Linked DNA regions of Homo sapiens: region 1 is linked to region 2. The links come from fine-mapping of genetic effects on gene expression. A gene starts in region 2. The other region holds a variant in brackets. All regions are shown on one strand. Distances are between the middles of the regions.

Evidence for each region. PIP is the estimated chance that this variant, and not a neighbour inherited with it, causes the effect. A credible set is the group of variants that fine-mapping cannot tell apart.
Region 1: its variant is the best candidate, but not a certain one, in a credible set for the expression of GABBR2 in lung (TOPMed, PIP 0.69).

The regions. Positions count from the first base shown.
Region 1 is chr9:98,536,583-98,541,946 of GRCh38, reverse strand. It overlaps GABBR2 (gamma-aminobutyric acid type B receptor subunit 2), which reads left to right. Exons shown (of 19, transcript NM_005458.8): 3 at 1-74. Among named protein-coding and RNA genes, the nearest start is that of GABBR2, 170 kb to the left of the region's middle. The variant G/A (reference allele first, on the strand shown) is at 3,262.
Region 2 is chr9:98,706,772-98,712,135 of GRCh38, reverse strand. It overlaps GABBR2 (gamma-aminobutyric acid type B receptor subunit 2), which reads left to right and starts at 3,201. Exons shown (of 19, transcript NM_005458.8): 1 at 3,201-3,719. The coding sequence starts at 3,399. RefSeq lists enhancers at 1,815-2,109, 3,862-4,432, 5,004-5,364.

The DNA of each region.
Region 1 (5,364 bases), 170 kb after region 2:
TTCTGAAGTTGCTCAAGCACTACCAGTGGAAGCGCGTGGGCACGCTGACGCAAGACGTTCAGAGGTTCTCTGAGGTACGCTCGGCTTGTGTGGACACGGCCTGCCTTACTGCTTGCTGCTGTCATCTAGCAAAAGGCAATGTGGTTTAGTCAGGGATGGGTACTGTCACAGGGCTTTTAAGCATGTGTTGGTTAGTGCGATCAAAGCTGTTTCACCGTTGACAAAATAGAGCTGGTAGCTGAGGAATTTCACTGTGCATAGGACTGGTGGAAACCATCATCAGGAGTGAACCTTCCCTTTCATTCTTTTTATTGGCTACCTCGTGTGGCTTATTCCCTCAGTGGCCCTGTGGGCTTGTCTTTGTTACTGATGCTGTCGTGACCATCTAAGATCACAAAGTTCTACCAGGGGGTGTGTTCATCTGTGAGGAGAGTTTTGGGGAAGGGCTGGCTTGGACCGAAGATGCCAATGTCACCTTGGATGGGGTACAGAGTTTTGTTTGTTCTAAGTGACTTACAAACACACCTTAATATATGGTAGGCAATTTTTTTGTTTTGTGTATGTGTTTTGTTGTGGGGGAAAAAAAAGCCAAAATATGGGTAGTAAAAAATGTAAAAGTGTTGCTTTGTCCTAAGCCACCTGAATCATGCTTTCTCTCTGAAAGTTAACTCCTGCTTTCACTTAGGGGTTCATCTGCCTAGAACTTTTTCAATGTATTTGTTTTAAAGCCAAATGACTTCATATCATGTATGTTTCTTTTTTCACTTTACAACAGATCTTAGAGGTCTTGATTAACCTCATGGTTTAAAGGGACCTGGTGTTCTGTCAGATGGGTATATCGTAACTTACCGAGCCAGCCCCTCTGAACGTTGACCACTTTTCAATGGGACAACCATACTCTCATGGCTAGGTGTGCGTCTTGGCAGTAGACTTCTAGAAGTGGATTTGCTGGGCCATTTAAAAATTTGAGAAGGACTGACTTCCAAAAAGGCAGTTCTAATTTCTAGTCCCACCAACAGCATTTGAAAATTCCCATTTTCACATATCCTTACTAACAGTGGATATTAACAAATATTTGAAACATTAGCCTCACTCAGATGAGTACAAAATGGCCTCCTGTCTTTTTTCCCATTTGCTTTGTGCCTCCTCCTCTCCTTTCTATTCCCATGTGTGCTTTTGATACTTGGAGCCTCCAAAAACACAAGACAAACCAAGTGTTCTTAGCAGCCCAAGAGAAACAAACTTTAGCCGTGTGGAGGATTTCCATGTGTGAGTCAGGGGTCTAGACAGACCTCAGCCGGAGCGGTGGGGGCAGACACACAGCCTCTTGCCAGCCTGGGAATGGGGAAAGGCCGGGCAGGGTGGCAAGAAAGTTGGGAGTAGAACAGGGCTGGTAATCAGCAGACCTGGTTTCCACTGCAGCTCTGCACTTACCTTCTGAGGTTCTTGCCCCCTGTCTCTTCCATGGGAAGGAGAGACCACTTCATACATTGGCTGTGTGACCTTGGAGACGTTACCTTGCTTCTCTGAGCTTCGATTCCTCCCCTGTAAAATGGGGACAATAACTTCTTGCATGCCTCCCTGCAGGGCTTCTGCCAAAATCCAATGAGTAATGGATCTGAAAGAGCTTCGTAAACTGTAAAGTTCATACACAGAGAGGGTTGTTTTTGGAGGTGCGTGAAAAGTGGAAGTGTTTGGCCCCACTGTCTGTGGGTATCCAAACAAGGCAAGCTTTTCCCAGGCAAGACTGCTCGTCATCTTCCCACCTCTCTGTTTCTCAGCCCCTAGGAGGAGGCACAAAGGGAACTTGACCTCCAGCGGGAGTGACTCATTGCCAAACGCTGAAGAGGCTTTTGCTGAAAGGCCGCCTTCATAGAGAAGCGAGAAATGTTCTAAAATGAGAGTGAAACAAGTGGATGGTGGAGGATAAGAAGGACCCATCCCATGGCCCCATTAACACTGGACTCTACTAGGATTTAGAGAGACTTGCTTTTTCCTTTTTCTTTTCTTTTTCTTTTTTTTTTTTTTTTTTTAGACGAAGTCTCACTCTGTCACCAGGCTGGAGTGCACTGGCGCAATCTCGGCTCATTGCAACCTCTGCCTCCTGGGTTCAAGCAATTCTCCTGCCTCAGCCTCCCGAGTAGCTGGGACTACAGGCACGTGCCACCACACCCAGCTAATTTATGTATTTTTAGTAGAGACGGGGTTTCACCATATTGGCTAGGATGGTCTCGATCTCTTGACCTCTTGATCTGCTCACCTCAGCTTCCCAAAGTGCTCCCAAAGTGGCATGAGCCACCGGGCCCGGCCAGACCTGCTTTTTTCTAATAGCATCTTTGGCTGTCAGAGCCTGAAGGACCCTTAGAGACATATCTCCTACCCTCCTCATTTTGTAGAAGGGGAAACTAAGGCCCAGAGAGGGAAGGGGACAAAGTTCAAGGTTTCAAGGCACCTCTGAAGTCATGAAAGATTGTTCACAGAAAAGTCAGGACTAAATTTTGGGGTCCTGAACCCCTCAGTTCAGACTTCCCATTTCTCCTTCTTTTCTTCTCTAGCTTCCTGGAATTGCATAGGAACTACCTGCATATAGCCTAAGAGGTTTGAAATTCCCACCAGACTGGTTCTAAAGGGGGTAAATTGTGAGCCCTGACATTGGTTGTGTGCCTTATAGATTCCCAAAAACTCTCACAGACAGCCACCCTGTAAGGAGGAGTGATGGTTCCCATTTTACAGATGGGGAAACTGAGGTTTGCAGAGGGTGGGAGGTCTCTTGCCCCAGGGCGCATGCTGGTAAAGAGCCCAGGCAGGGCTGGAAGCTGTACCCTCAGGCTGTTGCTGTGTGTCCTCGCTACATGGTCCTCACTGGGTAATCTCAGGTCTTGACTGTTGGGTAGCACATCTTTCCCCTTGCACAGCCGTGTCGGGGCCCTCAGCCAGGGTTTCAGGGCATCTCAGTGGGAAACCTTTTTTCCCGAGGACAGGATGCTGCTTGCTGGTATTGCTGGCAAGGACCTCTCTTGATTTAAATCTCTCAGCCCAGCTGACTCCTCTCTGTGCCCAAGGGCTTTGGCATCCCTCTCTCAATGTCTGGGCTGCATCGCTGGAGTGCAGGCCCTGGAAACTCGCCAGGGGCTAACAGCTTTTCATGAGTGCAAAGGAAACTGGATTCCTTTTATGAAACTGGTCGATCAGCAACGTCAAGCACTTCTGTTCCGGACTGGTGCACTGGAAGGAATGTCAAGTGAAAGAAATCCTGAAGTC[G/A]GAGGGGGTGGTGGAGGGGCTTTACTCCCACGGAGCTTATTACTGTGGCATTAGGACTATGGAAGCGGGTAGAAGGCTGAGGGCCATCCCACCTGGGGACCAGCTGCTCCTGTGAGCACCTCCAACCTCTGAGTTTCAAGGTAAGCCCATGGTAACCCAGAGGCTGCTCAGGACTTGGGTCTGAGGTACTGATCTCTAGGCCCACTTTGGCCAAGCATGGCTGCGTGACCCCAGGCAATTCACTTTCCCATGCTGACCCTAGGATGTATCAGATCTAGAGCTGCTGCTGGGACCAGGGTTCCATGGAGAGAATTGGCTACTGGAAAGTTTCAGCTTGCTCTGCCATGCCCCCTCTGGATGAAAGATGTAAATGAGACAAAAGAAGGAAGGATTTGGTACCAGGTGGGCTGATCTCTGAGCCCATCCTTGCTAAGTGATGGCTGTGAGATCCTAGGCCTCATAGAGATCCACTTTTCCCTTGTGTAAAATGGGGCTATTTATCCTACCTTGCAGGTACTGAAGATGAGATGGTTAAGTGAGAAAACAGAAATGAAAGATCTCTGTGTAGTAGGTGCTCACTAAATAGCCATTTGCTTCTCCAGTGATTCATGGGGCAAACTGAAAATGCAGGCCCATTCACTCAAAAAATCAGTGTGGCCTCCTATGTGCCATGGTCTGTGATGGGCCCTGTGCTGTGGAGGACCAGAGATCAATGACACAGCCTGGGGGTGAGTGGTGAGGCTTCCTGCATTGTGTTCTCAACTCTGGCTGCTCGCTAGAATCACCAGGGAAATTTTGATTTTAATACAAAATAAAATGTACATTTTTGGATTTTCTTCCATTTCCTTTTCTTCACTTTTAATAGCCTTATTGAGATATAATTTACATACCATACAGTTCATCCGTTGTTAATGTACAGTTCAATTATTTTTTATAAATTTTTTATGTTGGCCAGGTGTGGTGGCTCACACCTGTAATTCCATCACTTTGGGAAGCCAAAGTGGAAGGATTGCTTGAGCCCAGAAGTTTGAGACCAGCCTGGAGAACATGACAAAGCCCTGTCTCTACAAAAAAAAATACAAAAATTAACTGGGCATGATGGTGCACACCTATAGTCCCAGCTACCTGAGAGGCTTGAGCCCAGGAGTTCAAGGCTGCAGTGAGCTATGATTGCCCTACTGCACATTTTAACTTGGGAGACAGTGAGACCCTGTCTCAAAAAAAAAAAAGTATGTGTTTGTGCAACCATCGCCACAATCCAGTTTTAGAACACTCTTCATCACTCTAAAAATTCCCATGTGCCCATTTGTAGTCAGTTCCACCCCCCAGCCCCAGGAATAGTTTTACCTTTTCTGGAAATTTCATATAAATGGAATTAAAGAACACGCAGTCTTTTGCGTCTGGCTTCTTTCACTTAGCGCAGTGTTTGAGGCACATCATGCTGTGGCATGTGGCGGTGGTTTGTTTCTTTCTACTGCTGAGTGGTAATCCCTTGTATGGATGGAGCATCTGGGGAGCTTTGAAAATCCTGATGCCCAGGCCATCCCCAGAGCAACCACACTGGACGACCCTGGTGTTGGAGCCTGTCCAAGCTCTCCAGGTGGCTTCAGTGTGTCGCCAGCGTTGAGAACTCACGTCCTGCGTAATTGGCTCAGAGTCAGGAGCTCAGGGTGGAAGTGACGCCCTCTGGTGGTGGGAGACCTTGAGCTCAAAGTAGCCCCATTCTACCTGGTGGCCTCGGTCTACTTGTGGCCCTCAGCAGGCCTGGGGACTGAGGAGCAGGATGGAGAAGGTGGAGGGAGGCCTTGGTCCAGTGCTGGGGGCCCTGCCAGATGGAAGACAACAGTAGGGGTGTGAAGAGTTGGGTGGTCCACGAAGTCTGTGTTGGAGAGGGATAGGCAGGCAGGTAACCCGTGTGCACATTGAGGGGCTGCGGTAAGGAACTGGAGGGTTGTTGGGAGGCTGTGGACAGAGCCAGAAGAGGGGCATAAGTACCGAGAGTCCAGACCCTGGTGATGTGTGAAGACCCATTGTGGCATGGAGGTGCAGGTCACTGGAATTTAGGGCAAGGAGCTGAGAGGCCAGAGTGCTGAGTGATGTCAC
Region 2 (5,364 bases):
TTGGCCAATGCATTTTATTCCAATTAATAAGAAGCACAATGATTAGCCAATTCTCATCCTCTCTTCTGCTTATACCCTGGCCTGGCCACCAAATGTGCTTATTGTAGTAGAGACTCCTAACAGGTATTCCTGCTCACGCTCTTTTCCCCTGCTAACGGTTCTTCACTCTACAGCCAGAGTGATCCTCTTAAAATACATCAGATCATGTCACTGCTCCACCCAGTAGCCTCCCACGGTTGCTGTTTCATGTGCCCTCCCAGTGCTGAGGCCCCATACAGTCCTACCTGCCTTTGACCTTGGATCTGATTGCTTTCCCTTTGCCCACTCTGCTCTACCACATTGGCTTCCACATTGTTCCTTGAACATGCCAGGCACACTCCTGTCTCGGAGCCTCTGCCCTTGCTGTTCCTCTGCATGGAACACTATTCGCCTGTCTCTCTTACTTACCTTCTTTATGTCTTTGCTGAGGAGTCACCTTAGTGTGTCTTTCCCTGACCTCCCTATTTCAAATTGCAGCCCCACTCTGCCAGTCTCAATCCTCTTTCCTGCTTTTTTGTTCACCATAGCACTTTTCATAAATGGGCATACTAACATATCTTCTTCTTCCTATTTATTGTTTCTCTTTCTCCACTAGAATGTCAATTCTACAAGGGCAGGGATTTTGTTCTGGTTTTTTCCTTCCTATATCATCAGCTCCTAGGACAGTGCCTAGCAGGTAGCATGCCCTTCAAAACACTGGTCAAAGGAATGAATGATTATTATAAAGCAAGACGCTGGACCCCAGCTCTGGAGGAACATGCATTCTAGGCTGGTGACTGAGGCAGGAACTCAGACTCAGGAAGCACATCAGGGATGCAGTTACCCAAACTGTAATACCAGGCCAGAGTAAGATCTTGGAACCAGAGGGATGCCCAGGCATTAGGAGTGGGCTGTGAGATCAGAGATTGGCCTGGAGCCATGCTGATGGAGAGTGAGATTGGTGCCCCCTGGGTCAGGGCAGATCCCAGGTCATGCGTCTTGGGGCCAGGTCACCCCACCATAAAAGAAGACAGAGGGGCTGTAGGGCAGGATGCCAGGTAGGGCCTTCAACCCCTTAGTAAATGTCAGGCAAAGTTACCCAGCTTTCAACTTATTCCCAGATGTAGGTGTCAGTGGACACTCTATATTGGCACAGCTTGCAAGGAGGACACAAATGACTAAAGGAAAGAATTAGAAAAAAGAAAAAAACCAAGTGAAAATGTTCATTCAGAAACCTGAGCTAAGGGTTTGAGGAATGGCAGGTGCCAGAAGACTATGACTGGAGGATATTTGTGATGTCAAGTGAGACAGCAGTTGAGCGAGTATCTGGGGATTACACTGTCCTTTGGACCATTTCTTTCCCTCCCTCCCTTCCTTCCTCCCTTCCTGGAGGAGATGCTCAGGTGAGTTCTGTTCATGCAAACCCTCCAGCTTGGGGAAAAGGAAATGCCAAGTGGAGCCGGGAGAGGTGGAGTCTATAGAAGCCTGGAAAGAGAAGTTAGGGCAGAGAGAATTTGGCCTGGTTTCCCTGGCGCTGTCCAAGGTACTCTCTAGTAGTTCTGCTCAGCCTCCACTCACATCTTTGTGCTTCCTAACAACTCAGCCTGGATTCAGAGCTGCCCTTGCCTCACTCCAGTAGAGCTGGTGTGTGGCCATCATCATCATCATCCGGTCCAAATCCCTCACCATATGCCGGAGGGAATCGATGTCCAGAGCAACTGAGTCAGGGCAGTGCTCCTCCTGGAGAGGAAACTTGCAGTCCCACATCCCTGGCTCCCACTGCACTGTGCACGGAGTTCCTGCTGGCTCTGGGTTCCGGTCCTTCAGTAGCTCTGTGTGCTTCCACTAGCTACAGAACCTCTCTGAGCACCAGTGTATTCGCCTGTAAAGTAAGGGTGAGTAACACAGTATGCTTACAGGGCAGTTGTGGGGATTACATCATAAGGCACACAGTAAGTACTCAGCGAAGGTCAAACTTCCATTCTTGTTACAAGGTCGTCGATATCTTCCACAGTCCCTGGTTCAGGCTCAAGTATGTTTTGTGATTTGATGTCCTACTGTGTTCCTCGCATTAATCAGCCCCTGGGACTTTATAGATTAATGATCACGTTTCCTATTCTTGAAGTATGCAGAGGCACAAGGAACCCAAGGTCTTAGGTCAGCTCACTCGGGTACATCTGGCTCGGGACTGCTTTGGCTAAGATTGGCCAGTGCGACCTGGCAGAGAGAGGGCCAAGTCCAGGGGCGCGCGGCCCCGCCCTGGCCTGAGGATAGTGCTCCCACCCCGGGAGACTTCTAGGGCGGGGCCCATCAAGAATGGGGACGCGGGGAGGTCAAATGCCTGGAGGGGGCGGTAGCGCACGTAAGGTTGGGACCCCAGCTTTGCTTGGGGTTGGCAAAGGGCGGTCGCTCCGTCTGGTGGGGAGGAAAGGGGTGTCCTCAGCCAAGGCCCTAAAGGCCGGGCAGCCTGGCACCAACGGGCGTTCGAGCACCCGTGGGCGTCTTCAGCGACCCCCGGGACTCGGTCAGGGGCTCGTGGGCGCCAGAAAAGAACGGGAGAGCGTAGGCTGCAGATGCCTCTGGGACGCCTTCGTGGAACATTCTCCTGCCCAGACCTTCCCGGCCAGACCTCCGAGAAGCGGTTCCAAACCACCGTGCAGGTGCTACAGGCAGCGCTCGGCGGAGCGGCGGCGGCCACTGCGTGTGCCAGCGCGCGGTCCCGGTTCCCAGATCGCTGTCCCCGGGCGCTCTGGTGCCTGGAGGTCAGCGGTCGGCGGGCAGCGGCAGCTGGCGCAGCGGAGGGCCGGGGGCGCGTGTGTGCGTGTGCTGGGAAGGTGGCCCTCCCCGCGGCCGCCGCAGCGCCAGCGCCTCCCCCTCCCCCGGCGCGCACGGCTCGTCCCCGTCCCTGGAGGCGGCCCGAGCCGCCCCTGAGCAGCCTCGCCTTCGCCTCCCGCGTTTCCTGCCGTCCGCCCTCCCCCGGCCGAGCTCCAGGGGCTGCCGCCTAGCAGCTCCCGGCGGGAGAGCGGTTCAGAGCGCGCACGGGGGCGGGCGGAGGCGGCCCGGTGCGGGGCGGCCGCGCTGGAGAGAGGCGCGCGCGGAGACGCCGGCCCCCCTCTCCGCGTTTGCTCGCTTGCTCCCCGCCTCCCGCACTCCGCTCGCTCCCACCCCTTCCCGGCGTGATTGATCCGTCACGGGCGCCGCCGCTGCCGCCGCCGCCGCCGCGGCCGTTCTGAGCCGAGCCGGAACCCTAGCCCGAGACGGAGCCGGGGCCCGGGCCGGCGCCATTGCGCGGGCGCCGCGGGAAGACCTTGGCGCGGGGCGGCGGGCCGGGCCAGGCCATGCGGGCCGAGTGAGCCGGCGCCCGCAGCCCGCGGCGCGGCATGGCTTCCCCGCGGAGCTCCGGGCAGCCCGGGCCGCCGCCGCCGCCGCCACCGCCGCCCGCGCGCCTGCTACTGCTACTGCTGCTGCCGCTGCTGCTGCCTCTGGCGCCCGGGGCCTGGGGCTGGGCGCGGGGCGCCCCCCGGCCGCCGCCCAGCAGCCCGCCGCTCTCCATCATGGGCCTCATGCCGCTCACCAAGGAGGTGGCCAAGGGCAGCATCGGGCGCGGTGTGCTCCCCGCCGTGGAACTGGCCATCGAGCAGATCCGCAACGAGTCACTCCTGCGCCCCTACTTCCTCGACCTGCGGCTCTATGACACGGAGGTGAGTGTCCGGCTGCCCCTGCCGTCGGGGCTTCGGGGGGCATTGGGGTGGGTGGTTTGGACACAGGCAACCTCCGGCCTTTGGTCAGATCCCCGATTGACCGGCCCGCGCCTGCCGAGGGCAGAGAGGGCTGGTGCCCAGTGTTCACCCCCGCGGTCCTGCTGGGCTTGGCTGGCACAGCTGGTAACATTTGCCAAGCACCCCCTCCTCTGGTCTTATGTGTGTATGTGTGTGTGGGGAGGGGTGGGGGTGGGATAGAAGACTGGGGTCTCTTTTGACCAGAGAAAAAGGAGTGGAGAAGGTGGGGGCTGGACCCCCAAAGGCCTACATTGATTGTCCCTGTCCAGGTCCCGCTCATGGGGCTGCGAGGTACCGAGTGGGAGGAACAGGCGCATTGACTGCAAACTGGGCCACCCAGGGCCGGAGGGGCCGCGGGCCTGCTCACAGGCCCCCAGGGAAGCCGAGCCGCGCTTTGAGGTCCGGAAGGCTCCGGAACCCAAGGGGCTTGAGCGTGCAGCGTGGCTGGGCGCCTGGTGCGCGCCAGCAGCTCTGAGCCCGCTCCGCGCGGGCAAGTGTGGGGCCACCGGCTCTGCAGCGCTTCTGCCTGGACGTGCCCGGCGCTGCCTGTGGCCAGAGCGATTTCAGGAGACCCCTGCCTCGGGTTAGTTGCTCAGAAAGTGCCCTGGCAGTTCTCGTCCCGGACGTGCAGTGGTGTCCGGCCGCGCCGCTGCTGTTGGCCGGGCGGCTGCAGGCAGTTTCTCACGGCTCAGGCTTGAAGCATCCGACCTAGCAGCCGGAGCACAGACTTGGAGAGCAGTCCGGAGCGGAGCCAGAGAGCCAAGGGCTTTCCATCCCAAGACCCCTCCCCACGCCCTCGGTTTGGGTTCTGCCTGAAGCCCCAGAGCGGACCTTCACCGCCAGGCCGGGGCTGGAGCGCGCGGAGCGGGTCTGGAGGAGCGATCGCTGGCCGCGCAAGGTCGGGTTTGCGAGTTTTTCCGGACCGAGCGAGCCCCTGTGCTCCGACCGCAGCGTCTGAGACGCGGCCTGAAGGGGGCAGTGATTTCCTGTGCAGTACGCTCGGTTGGCGCCTCTTCCATCGCGCGGAACGGGGCCGAGGCGCTGGGCTTGATCCTGGCTTCCTGGGACTCTCCGGGCGCTTCTGCTGGAGTCCAGGTGCAGAACCCTTTTGGGAGGAGGGTCGCGCTACTGCTCTGGTGGTGCAATCTGGGCTTCCCCTCCTCCTTGGTCGGACCCTCTTTATGTCCCCAGAGAAAGAGCAGAATCTAGATTGTATCTTATTCCCTGCCTCCCCCGCTTCACCGGTGAACCAGCTTGCTCTGCGCTGTAAATAAAAGGTGAAGGAACCGGTGGCAGTTGGCAGCGGTACGCGCAGGCTGCTGCAGGCGGAGAGGCGTCCTCTGCCCCAGAGGATGCAAGCTGGCTGGCTGTGCAGGGCTAACCCGGTGTGAAATCATTTCCGAATGACATTCCTATCGCCCTCGTCTTTGCCTGAGCATCTCAAGTTCTGTGGGGGTACTTGTCTGGCACACATAAATGGAGACAGCAATGCAGTTACACGGAGGCATATCTTCTTGACAGTTTCTCTGTTGCTACTGCACATATTCTTCTGGAGGGGTCACTGCAA